Homo sapiens: one gene and its partners. The protein of the gene in region 3 purifies or fractionates together with the protein of the main gene of each other region. This does not show direct contact. Each region holds a gene or a part of one and is shown on either strand. Other genes may lie near its edges.

The links.
Region 1: the proteins of HEATR6 (region 3) and VSIG1 purify together in Homo sapiens (co-immunoprecipitation; one large-scale study listed by IntAct). This does not show direct contact.
Region 2: the proteins of HEATR6 (region 3) and RPP30 fractionate together in Homo sapiens (co-fractionation; one large-scale study listed by BioGRID). This does not show direct contact.

Annotation. Positions count from the first base shown.
Region 1 is NC_000023.11:108,076,065-108,079,841, forward strand, and holds the end of VSIG1 (V-set and immunoglobulin domain-containing protein 1 isoform 2 precursor), read left to right. Parts: intron 1-12; coding exon 13-154; intron 155-983; coding exon 984-1,317; 3' UTR 1,318-3,120; downstream 3,121-3,777.
Region 2 is NC_000010.11:90,892,379-90,896,035, forward strand, and holds part of RPP30 (ribonuclease P protein subunit p30), read left to right. Parts: intron 1-2,396; coding exon 2,397-2,513; intron 2,514-3,075; coding exon 3,076-3,105; intron 3,106-3,501; coding exon 3,502-3,539; intron 3,540-3,657. UniProt on the Homo sapiens protein: Component of ribonuclease P, a ribonucleoprotein complex that generates mature tRNA molecules by cleaving their 5'-ends. Also a component of the MRP ribonuclease complex, which cleaves pre-rRNA sequences.
Region 3 is NC_000017.11:60,061,816-60,065,472, reverse strand, and holds part of HEATR6 (HEAT repeat-containing protein 6), read left to right. Parts: intron 1-3,657. UniProt on the Homo sapiens protein: Amplification-dependent oncogene.

The DNA of each region.
Region 1 (3,777 bases), on a different chromosome or scaffold from region 3:
TGTATCCTTCAGATCCAGAAGTTGGAATCATTGTTGGGGCCTTGATTGGTAGCCTGGTAGGTGCCGCCATCATCATCTCTGTTGTGTGCTTCGCAAGGAATAAGGCAAAAGCAAAGGCAAAAGAAAGAAATTCTAAGACCATCGCGGAACTTGAGTAAGCCTTCATTTTGTTGTCTTTACTTGAATACAAACATTTCTCAGGCATGTCTTTTTCAGTCATCAATTCCTAAGCACTCCTTTTAGTATAAGATATCAGAGGTATCTTTCTGTTTACTCTCATTGAATTTAAAAAAGAATGATGATGGCTGCTATTTATTGAGTGCTGTGTGCCAGGCTCTGTTCTAAGCACTTTATGTACATCAACTCATTTAGCTATCACAACAGTTTTAGGTCCAAGAAAACATTTTCATATATAATACTAACATACTTGTCTTAATACCAACATAGTCATGAAATATAATTTTAAATTTTTTTATGGAACAAGAGACCCACAAGGACAGTGCCCAGGGAACACAGAAGTTAGAATGTGGCCCAGCCCACAGCTCATGCTCTTAATCACTCTATTTCTTTCCTAGTGTGTATCTCACTCATTCATTTTTTTTCATCTCCTTGCTTCTACAACTATCTATTGGGTATCAACCAGGTGCCAAGTATTGTACTAGATGGAGTGAGAAATAGCGATACATCAGAGCTATGAATTTGGACCTTAAAGACCTTATTAGATTCTTAGACTCTTTCATTCTGACATTATTTTCCCACCTTGAAACACTGCTCTTTCTTAAACTTTCATGATATTGTTGAGACCTAACCTTTCTGAATCCAAAATGACCTATGGCCTGACAATGAGTCAGAATATCAGAAATAACAGATTTCCTGAAGTCTGGGACCTATGGTCATTGAAGCTACAGAACATATGGTTTCACATGAAATTTCAAAGTTAGCATCTCCCTAACTTGTTCTTTTCTGGGCCTTCTTTCTTGCAGGCCAATGACAAAGATAAACCCAAGGGGAGAAAGCGAAGCAATGCCAAGAGAAGACGCTACCCAACTAGAAGTAACTCTACCATCTTCCATTCATGAGACTGGCCCTGATACCATCCAAGAACCAGACTATGAGCCAAAGCCTACTCAGGAGCCTGCCCCAGAGCCTGCCCCAGGATCAGAGCCTATGGCAGTGCCTGACCTTGACATCGAGCTGGAGCTGGAGCCAGAAACGCAGTCGGAATTGGAGCCAGAGCCAGAGCCAGAGCCAGAGTCAGAGCCTGGGGTTGTAGTTGAGCCCTTAAGTGAAGATGAAAAGGGAGTGGTTAAGGCATAGGCTGGTGGCCTAAGTACAGCATTAATCATTAAGGAACCCATTACTGCCATTTGGAATTCAAATAACCTAACCAACCTCCACCTCCTCCTTCCATTTTGACCAACCTTCTTCTAACAAGGTGCTCATTCCTACTATGAATCCAGAATAAACACGCCAAGATAACAGCTAAATCAGCAAGGGTTCCTGTATTACCAATATAGAATACTAACAATTTTACTAACACGTAAGCATAACAAATGACAGGGCAAGTGATTTCTAACTTAGTTGAGTTTTGCAACAGTACCTGTGTTGTTATTTCAGAAAATATTATTTCTCTCTTTTTAACTACTCTTTTTTTTTATTTTAGACAGAGTCTTGCTCCGTCGCGCAGGCTGTGATCGTAGTGGTGCGATCTCGGCTCACTGCAACCTCCGCTCCCTGGGTTCAAGCGATTCTCCTGCCTGAGCCTCCTGAGTAGCTGGGACTACAGGCACGTGCCACCACGCCCGGCTAATTTTTTGTATTTTTAGTAGAGATGGGGTTTCACGTTGTTAGCCAGGATGGTCTCCATCTCCTGACCTCATGATCCGCCCACCTTGGCCTCCCAAAATGCTGGGATTACAGGCATGAGCCACTGCGCCCGGCCTCTTTTTAGCTACTCTTATGTTCCACATGCACATATGACAAGGTGGCATTAATTAGATTCAATATTATTTCTAGGAATAGTTCCTCATTCATTTTTATATTGACCACTAAGAAAATAATTCATCAGCATTATCTCATAGATTGGAAAATTTTCTCCAAATACAATAGAGGAGAATATGTAAAGGGTATACATTAATTGGTACGTAGCATTTAAAATCAGGTCTTATAATTAATGCTTCATTCCTCATATTAGATTTCCCAAGAAATCACCCTGGTATCCAATATCTGAGCATGGCAAATTTAAAAAATAACACAATTTCTTGCCTGTAACCCTAGCACTTTGGGAGGCCGAGGCAGGTGGATCACCTGAGGTCAGGAGTTCGAGACCAGCCTGGCCAACATGGCGAAACCCCTTCTCTACTAAAAATACAAAAATTAGCTGGGCGTGGTAGTGCATGCCTGTAATCCCAGCTACTTGGGAGGCTGAGGCAGGAGAATCGCTTGAACCCAGGAGGTGGAGGTTGCAGTGAGCCGAGATTGTGCCACTGCACTCCAACCTGGGTGACAGAGTGAGATTCCATCTGAAAAACAAAAACAAAAACAGAAAACAAACAAACAAAAAACAAAAAATCCCCACAACTTTGTCAAATAATGTACAGGCAAACACTTTCAAATATAATTTCCTTCAGTGAATACAAAATGTTGATATCATAGGTGATGTACAATTTAGTTTTGAATGAGTTATTATGTTATCACTGTGTCTGATGTTATCTACTTTGAAAGGCAGTCCAGAAAAGTGTTCTAAGTGAACTCTTAAGATCTATTTTAGATAATTTCAACTAATTAAATAACCTGTTTTACTGCCTGTACATTCCACATTAATAAAGCGATACCAATCTTATATGAATGCTAATATTACTAAAATGCACTGATATCACTTCTTCTTCCCCTGTTGAAAAGCTTTCTCATGATCATATTTCACCCACATCTCACCTTGAAGAAACTTACAGGTAGACTTACCTTTTCACTTGTGGAATTAATCATATTTAAATCTTACTTTAAGGCTCAATAAATAATACTCATAATGTCTCATTTTAGTGACTCCTAAGGCTAGTCCTTTTATAAACAACTTTTTCTGACATAGCATTTATGTATAATAAACCAGACATTTAAAGTGTACAATTTGATGAGTTTTGACAGAGCACATACCCATGAAACCACCACACCCATCTAGAGAGAAAACATTTCCATCAGCCCAAAATGTTTCTTCATGCCCCTTTGTGCGATCCCACCATTGCCCTGGACCTAGGAAATCACTCATTGTTTTCCATCACTAGAGGTTAACTTTGCCTTTTCTTGGCCCTCATACATATGGGATGATACAGTATGTACTTTTTGTGTCTCACTTCCTTCTAAGGTGAATCCTTTTTAAACAAAGTAGTGAGTTTCTCATTTATCACTTTCAGATTTTCATGTAAAATATTTTCTTAAACTGCAAACTCCTTTCTATATAAATCATAACCATACACAGATTGAGGTAGAGTCTCTGTAGGTTTTAAGGAGAGTTAAAATGGAAATTAACATTACACTTATCTAGAGCCATGGAGAGAAGAGATAGCAAGCGTTTATTTCTGCATTTTCTTCGATGCGTCCATTTTCAGAAAATGTCAGGGATTTCTGATGCATTTATAATTTCATTCATACTAAATATGATAGTATGGTATATGGTGTCTGATGGACACAAGAAGCAAAATAATGAAGGTCTTAAGAATGACCTAATATTTAGAGATTAAAAAGTAAACAACAGTGTAAACATCTCAATTACCAGAATGCCCA
Region 2 (3,657 bases), on a different chromosome or scaffold from region 3:
TTTCTTTTTCAAGAATTCCTATAGCAGTTTTAAAGTGAACTTGATTAATGTACCAAGATGAAAATCAGAACTTTTTCCTTAAAAAATAATTATGCTGATAATATCCTTTTTTTCTCCCCTCCCCCCGCAAAAGTTGTTTTTATTTTGATTTGGTACCCACAAGGGTCTAGAAATTTAGATTCAGTCAATTAGGAATATTTCGAGATCTAAGCATCCAACTCTATATATCATTCACCTCTTTCATTTATTTCCCCTCTTCATCATCCTGTTGCCTTGTATTATCGTTCCACAACTAGAAGGATAAGGAAAAGAAATACAGGTCAGCCTCTTCAGCTAATTAGTAGTTTTGGTAAAATATATAGCCAAGGAGATGGCTGATAATATGGCTAAAAGGGATGTTTTTACTTATCTGTGGTTTTTGGTTAGCCAGGTGCACCGAGGTTCCTTTGATGATGGATCATCTATAATGAACAACGTTATCACAGGACATCTTCTCCATAAGCTGCTATTTATTCACTCAAAATATAAATATATTATACACCTTTTATGTAAAAGGCAGTCTAGCTCTCAAGAAGTGTGCAAGCTTGGCAGAGCCAATGAGATACACGTTCAACTAGGACAGAAATACTATCTTAACAAATGTCATTCCCAGAAATAATCAACACAGGTGAAAGAATTAGAGATGGGGAAAAGTCAAAAAATGAGAGAGGGAAAGGTTGCAGTGTGGAAAATAGCATTTAAATTCTAACCAAACTAGAATCAGACATATAGGAAAATCTAAAATAAAATCTGGGAGCCTTGAAGCCGGAGGAAGAATTAAGGAAATCTGTGTTCGGGAGGGAAAAGCAGAAGGGGCCTTCAAGTACAACTGAATTAAATCAAGATGGACTGCCAGTTCTAGAAAAAGACAAGTTTCTCCATTCCCCGTAAATGCTCAGGAGTAAACCCCAGTAGTCACAGCTGGGCCAGTCCCAACTTATACTCTGGGCAATCGAAACTCATTTGCCAAGCAGAGACTTGGACCATACTGCCTAGAACATGCCTACCATTCTTTCTTTATTCTTTTGAAAGAGTACTGCCACTCAAGTGACTTTTGCAATTGAGAGTCTGATTATCATCTCTATGCTGAAAATCCTTCAGATGTTTTCTCCATTAGGAATAATCCTCATCACCAGCTCTAAAGGCCTGCACAGTTGGCCCTTCCCATCCTCTTTAGCCTGTCTTCCTCATTATTTTTCTCCAGCATTTGACCTTCCCTACGTGCTGCCATGCTGCAACCTTGAAGACTTTTGCATGCTCTGACCTCCCTCTGAAAGTGCACCTTCCTCTACTATTTAACTGCTTAATTTCTTCCTCAACCCTAAACTTCTCCTTGATAGCACTTAACACAGTTGAAGTTTTGTATTTTTGTGTGGTTATTGATCATCTCCCCCACTAAAATGTAAGCTTTTAGAAGGGAGAAACCATCTCAGCTTTTGCACGTAGTGGGCTTAAAACATCTTTTGTGAATGGATGCAGACATTTAGGTGCTCATTAGGAAAGCTGAACAGTATGGTGGTTAATTTCAATATCATTTCCACTCATCTACTTACCTGTGGATCCCTCTGTAGTAAGAGTACATTAAATAAAGAAGTTTCTGTTTCTCATGAAAAAAGCCAAGCTTGTATGGTGAGCTGGGCAAAATCTTCAAGGGCACTTCCATCTTTTTTGCTGTGCGGCTATAAGCCCAGTGAAAAATCAGGGGCTTTATTACTAAAGAAAAAGGAGAGGACAGATATCTGGGCAATTTGCAGGCTTTGCAGTAATGCTTTATAAAGGTATTGTAGTAAGGATTAAATATTATATATAAGACTCTCTTAGCATATAGTCAGCACTCAATTAACTATGGCTGTTATTCTCTCTTCAACATATAGAGAATAAATTACTTACCTGAAAGACCTTCCTGCCCTTGGTTCTTTGGGCTTTTTTCAGCTCTTCATTTCTTTGTCTCTTTGTGCATTCATAGGTCAGATTACTTGGTTTACTATGTTTGTATACAGTTTACTGTAAATGTAGGGAGTACATTTCTGTTTTCCTTTTGATAGTTCATGGAGTAGTAGCCCCTCTCTCACGCCATTGGGACTTTGTTCTTCTTAGCCTCTTCATAATTCCTGTTTATGTAAAGTCAGCTTCCCCACAGCCAAGTTAAACTCTCTTAATCAAGTAGAGCCACGGATTTATTTTCTTCTCCTTGTGGGTGGTGCCATTTGAGTGTTGATCTGTCTTTCATAAAGCTGTACCTTGACATGTAAGGGGTCAGTAGTAGGGAGTGAGGAGGGATGTGAAGAGAGAATCAGTGAAAATGAAGTAGGCCAGTGCATGCTTATCTCTGACAGTTCTCTTTATTTCCTGTGAAGGCGATTGACCGAGGCCTGGCTTTTGAACTTGTCTATAGCCCTGCTATCAAAGACTCCACAATGAGAAGGTATACAATTTCCAGTGCCCTCAATTTGATGCAAATCTGCAAAGGAAAGGTATGGTTCTATAATTTTAGGATGTTTTTCGCATCTGGCAGTTTATTATTAGTAGTACACTGGAATTGTCAAACTGACTCCTTTTCCTTAAAGCAGAATGTTCTCATAGCATAGGAACAAATTCTGCCATTTCAGTGAGCTCTGCAAATTTTAAGGGAAAGAAAAATACCAAGGGAAGAATAATGTAAGGGAGAAAAAGATGTGTTGGAAGCCATATCTTTTGATAAAAATTTGCAATTTACATACTGTGAAAGAAAAGTCTAGAATAACAATGGTCCTCACTGAGTTGAATTAAGATATGTGACCTTTTCATCTTGTTTTTTAAACTTAATTCACCTTTACTAAGATCTGTTAGGAAAACATATTTTGTTTTTTATTACAGATTGCCTTTAGTTTGACATGAAGTCTTTTCATTTTTTTCACCTTAATTATTTACCTTATCTTTAAAAGAAGTTGGTATTTGAGCCTTAAATGTTAAAATATGATTACTGGCTATTTATATTATGAAACTCCTTTTTTTACATTTATCTAAGATTAATATTAGTCACTTTCTATTTTGTAGAATGTAATTATATCTAGTGCTGCAGAAAGGGTAAGTCTAGCATGAAGTACTTTGTTTTCATCTTTCAGGTTATAAAACTTTTCAGTTTCTAGGGGATAAATTAAAATAGTAAATGAATATTTGTTGCATTTTTTTCTATTTTAACTGCATTTGCTCATTGTAATTGCTAAATAGTAAAATTTATCCCCACTTTCTTTAGGCTTCAACTTTTGTTTATATAATCAGTTTTTCTTTTATACTGTTACAAAATGCCTTTCAAGCTTCTCTTATATTTTCAAAAGCTATGAAACCCATCAAAATTATAAGGACTTAAATTTATGTAATTTTTTTATTTTTGGATACTTAAATTTTCTATTAATTTGCTATAAGTCATTGAAATGTTATAAATAATTTTCTCATATCTACTCTTTGTTCATTTTATTTCAGCCTTTAGAAATAAGAGGGCCATATGACGTGGCAAATCTGTATCCTTTTCTGAGTAAAAAGTTGTTGACATTGTCTTTCAGGAAATTTTGAATTTGAAGTCGTATTATAGTTGAACATGTATTTTTCTCAACCTTTTACTGTAAGTTTACCAATTAA
Region 3 (3,657 bases):
CATCTGGGTGTCCTCAGGTAACCAGCTACCCACAAAGAGGAGTTTTAATTAGGCCAACAGCATATTGTTCCTTTTCTGTTTTTAAGATTATTCCTTAAGGGGTCAGGGGTGGTAACCCACAATACGTTGGAATTCCATATGAGTCATCTCCTTGAGTAACTTACTATATAAGAAAATTTCTGGATGACCCATCAGAAGCTTTTACAAGGTAAAGAAAAATAAATTAGCCTCAATTTTATATACACGCAAAAAAATGACTTGTGGGGTATTTCAAATACTCCTTATCCTAGGAAATTAAACTGGCAGAAATTTTACAAATTAACTAAATCAATAGTGAATGAGAACCTAGGAGAAAAATGGAAAAATGAGTGGTGGCAAATAAATCAGTAATGAAGCCATTAGAGTAATTGAAATAAAAGCTACTAAAAATATTGAAAATATATATTTGAAGACCCTCCAGCTAGGGGAGCTGCCAGCAGTGGCCAACGAGATGGTGCTGTGGAGCAAGAAGCAGCCCAGCTTTATCACCTTTATCACAGCTGCCCAGCCAAGGGGATGTGGGACACGGGGGTTTAGAACAGGAATACAAAAAGGTTATGAGGTCATAGCTGATGAAAATGAATTGGAATAATTTTCATGATGTTTATATCTTCATATATTTTTAAATGTTTACATTTCACTTAAAGTGCCATGAGAAATTTCACCTATTGCAAAGTGGTCTTATCCATCTCCTTGATTTAGGTACCTTTTAGACTTGTTCTTGCTGTTTAACTTTGGTGAATGCAAGAGATGTGCTGAGGAAAAAAGATACAGAACTTCCTTCTGGAGATGTTGTAGATCCAGTACAAAAAGCCACAAGAAAATCCTAGAGAAAAAAAAAAAAAAGTCATCCTACTTAAAGTGGATTTTAAAAGATGAAAGAAATTAAATTAGTTCAGTGTAATGGCAAGTGAAATGATCGTACTTAAGAGATTCTTTTAATCAAGTGTTAGCTTGGAAGGGTTTAAATAAGTGTGGTAATTATTGTTTACAACAGAGCTTGGAGCATACCTTTGCAGTCTGTCCATAGTGTGATTAACTGTGCACCAAGACATATGCTAGAAAAAAGTGTTGTGGTAGGTGATGTCATGGGACAGGCTTTTGTTTGTTTGTTTGTTTGTTTGTTTGAGACAGAGTTTTGCTCTTGTTGCCCAGGCTGGAGTGCAATGGTGAGATCTCAGCTTACTGCAACCTCTGCCTCCCGGGTTCAAGCAATTCTGTCTCAGCCTCCCGAGGAGCTGGGACTACAGGCATGCACCACCATGCCTGGCTAATTTTGTATTTTTGGTAAAGATGGGATTTCTCCATGTTGGTCAGGCTGGTCTGGAATTCCTGACCCCAGGTGATGTGCCTGCCTTGGCCTCCCAAAGTGCTGGGATTATAGACTTGAGCCACCGCACCCGGCCCAGTGGGACAGGCTTTTAAAATAAAGACTTCTAGAAAGTTATGTGCATTAAAATTAAAAATAACAGATCATGTAATTAGAATGGAACAGCATTCTGGATTGACCAGGTTAAAAGAGCTGCCATGACTCCAGGCCAAGTGGTCATCTCAGGTGCTCCTTGTGCATATAGAGTTAGATGGCTGGAGTTCCTCTTAGCCAGGATTAAATAAGACAACTGTAGTTTATCTTGTCATTGAAGTGCTTAGTGATTAGTTTTGAGTTTATGGCAGGTCTGATATGACCCATGGCATACTCAGCTGGAAGCACAATTTTAACTGGTGTACTAAGAAATTTTCTAAAGACAAATGGACAGAAGGAAAGGTGATTAGACTCTTCCAGTCAGAATGCCAACAATAAACAGAGGCTACTTTTAGGAAATTGAAACATAATATGCTAGAATGGTTAATTGGGGAGAAGAAAACTTAGAAATGTCCATTCGGATTTGGCAGTGCTGTGGTACTTGGGAAATGATCACATTTCCATGTTGGAAATGTGCTTCATAGAGCACATCTTATACACTTCCAAAAGGGACAGAACAAATTATCAATAAAAATAACAAGACTAATTTAAGAATTTCTTGGATATGATTTCCTTAGGTGTTATAAACGCATATTATGGAGAATATCATCAAGACTTGTCTTAAGAAACAAACTACAGGGCAAACCTTTGTCTTGGTACCTTGAGAATTATCCTGATTTACAAATTTCATGATGATGATTTATTGCTGTTTCAGATAACTATAAAAAGTGAAAACAAATCGAAATCTAGATAATAGTGGTATAACTAGAAAAGAGAATGAAAAGGTTGGAATTGTTAACTGTTATGGAATGGTAGATTTTCTCTCATATGGCCAGCCAAGAACAGGCAATCTTTGCTTAGTGTATTAGCAAAGAACAGGCAGTCTTTAATTAGTGTATCTGTATTGACGCTTCTGATAAAGACATACCCGAGACTGGGAAGAAAAAGAGGTTTAATTGGACTTACAGCTCCACATGGCTGGGGAGGCTTCAGAATCATGGCAGGAGGCAAAAGGCACTTCTTTACATGGTGGCAGCAAGAGAAAATGAGGAAGAAGCAAAAGCAGAAACCCCTGATAAACCCATCAGATCTCGTGAGACTATCACGAGAATAGCAGGGGGAAGACCAGCCCCCATGATTCAGTTACCTCTCACAAGTCCCTCCCACAACACGTGAGAATGCTGGGAGATATAATTCAAGTTGAGATTTGGGTGGGGACACAGCTAAACCATATCACTTAGATACCTCCCAACCCAGAGTCCCTGACACAATGTTGAAATGCTGTTACGTAAAAGACAACTGACTTTGGAAGTGAGATCCAATAAAATAACATGTGAACAGTCATGTGCCCTGCATGGAAACTTCAATGTACCTACTCCCAGCAGGGACTTCTTTGTCACCCTTCCAGAAATATTCTGAGACCAAACACACATAAAGAGGAAAAAAATTAGGATTGACTAGGCTACCTCAGCAAACATTTGTGCTACGTTCTTAAGTAGCAAAAAAGGAAAAGTACTTTTCTGTTTTATTAGCTTTAGACAAGTCTTCATGTCCAAGGAGGTGAAACTATACACTAGTAAAACCAAGCACACTGACTTCTGTAAGACTGAAAAGCCTTTCATTCATCATTTTAAATATTCAGACAATGAAAACTTAACAAAATGAGCTCTCTGAAGAGCTACACCTGTTATGATTTACTTGCACGTTAGTAATTTCTGCTGAAAGTGCTGATTAGGACTGGTAAACCAGATATTAAATATTGATATAAGAGCAAAAGAAGCAAAACTTGTACCAGATTCAGTATCTTAAGTAACAATTATAACAACAAAGATATGTTAAACAGAGTTTAAAGGAAATTAACTCAGAACTGTGAGAAGTACAATTTGATATAGTATCAAATTTCTATATAGATTTTGTAACTTAGTGGAAAAAAATAACCAATTTCAATGACATTTGTTTTCATCTGTGATAGTCATGATTTTCCCCTTAAGATGCCAAAATTGTGCTAAAATTTTTGACTTTTGGAACATTAGTTCATTTCTTTCCATTCGATTTTTAATTTCATTCAGTTTGTGAGCTGTTGGAATTGTGATTTTTAATTGTCTTCTAAAGAAATGAAGGTTTAGCATAAGATCTATCTTGTTGAGTTCGGACGA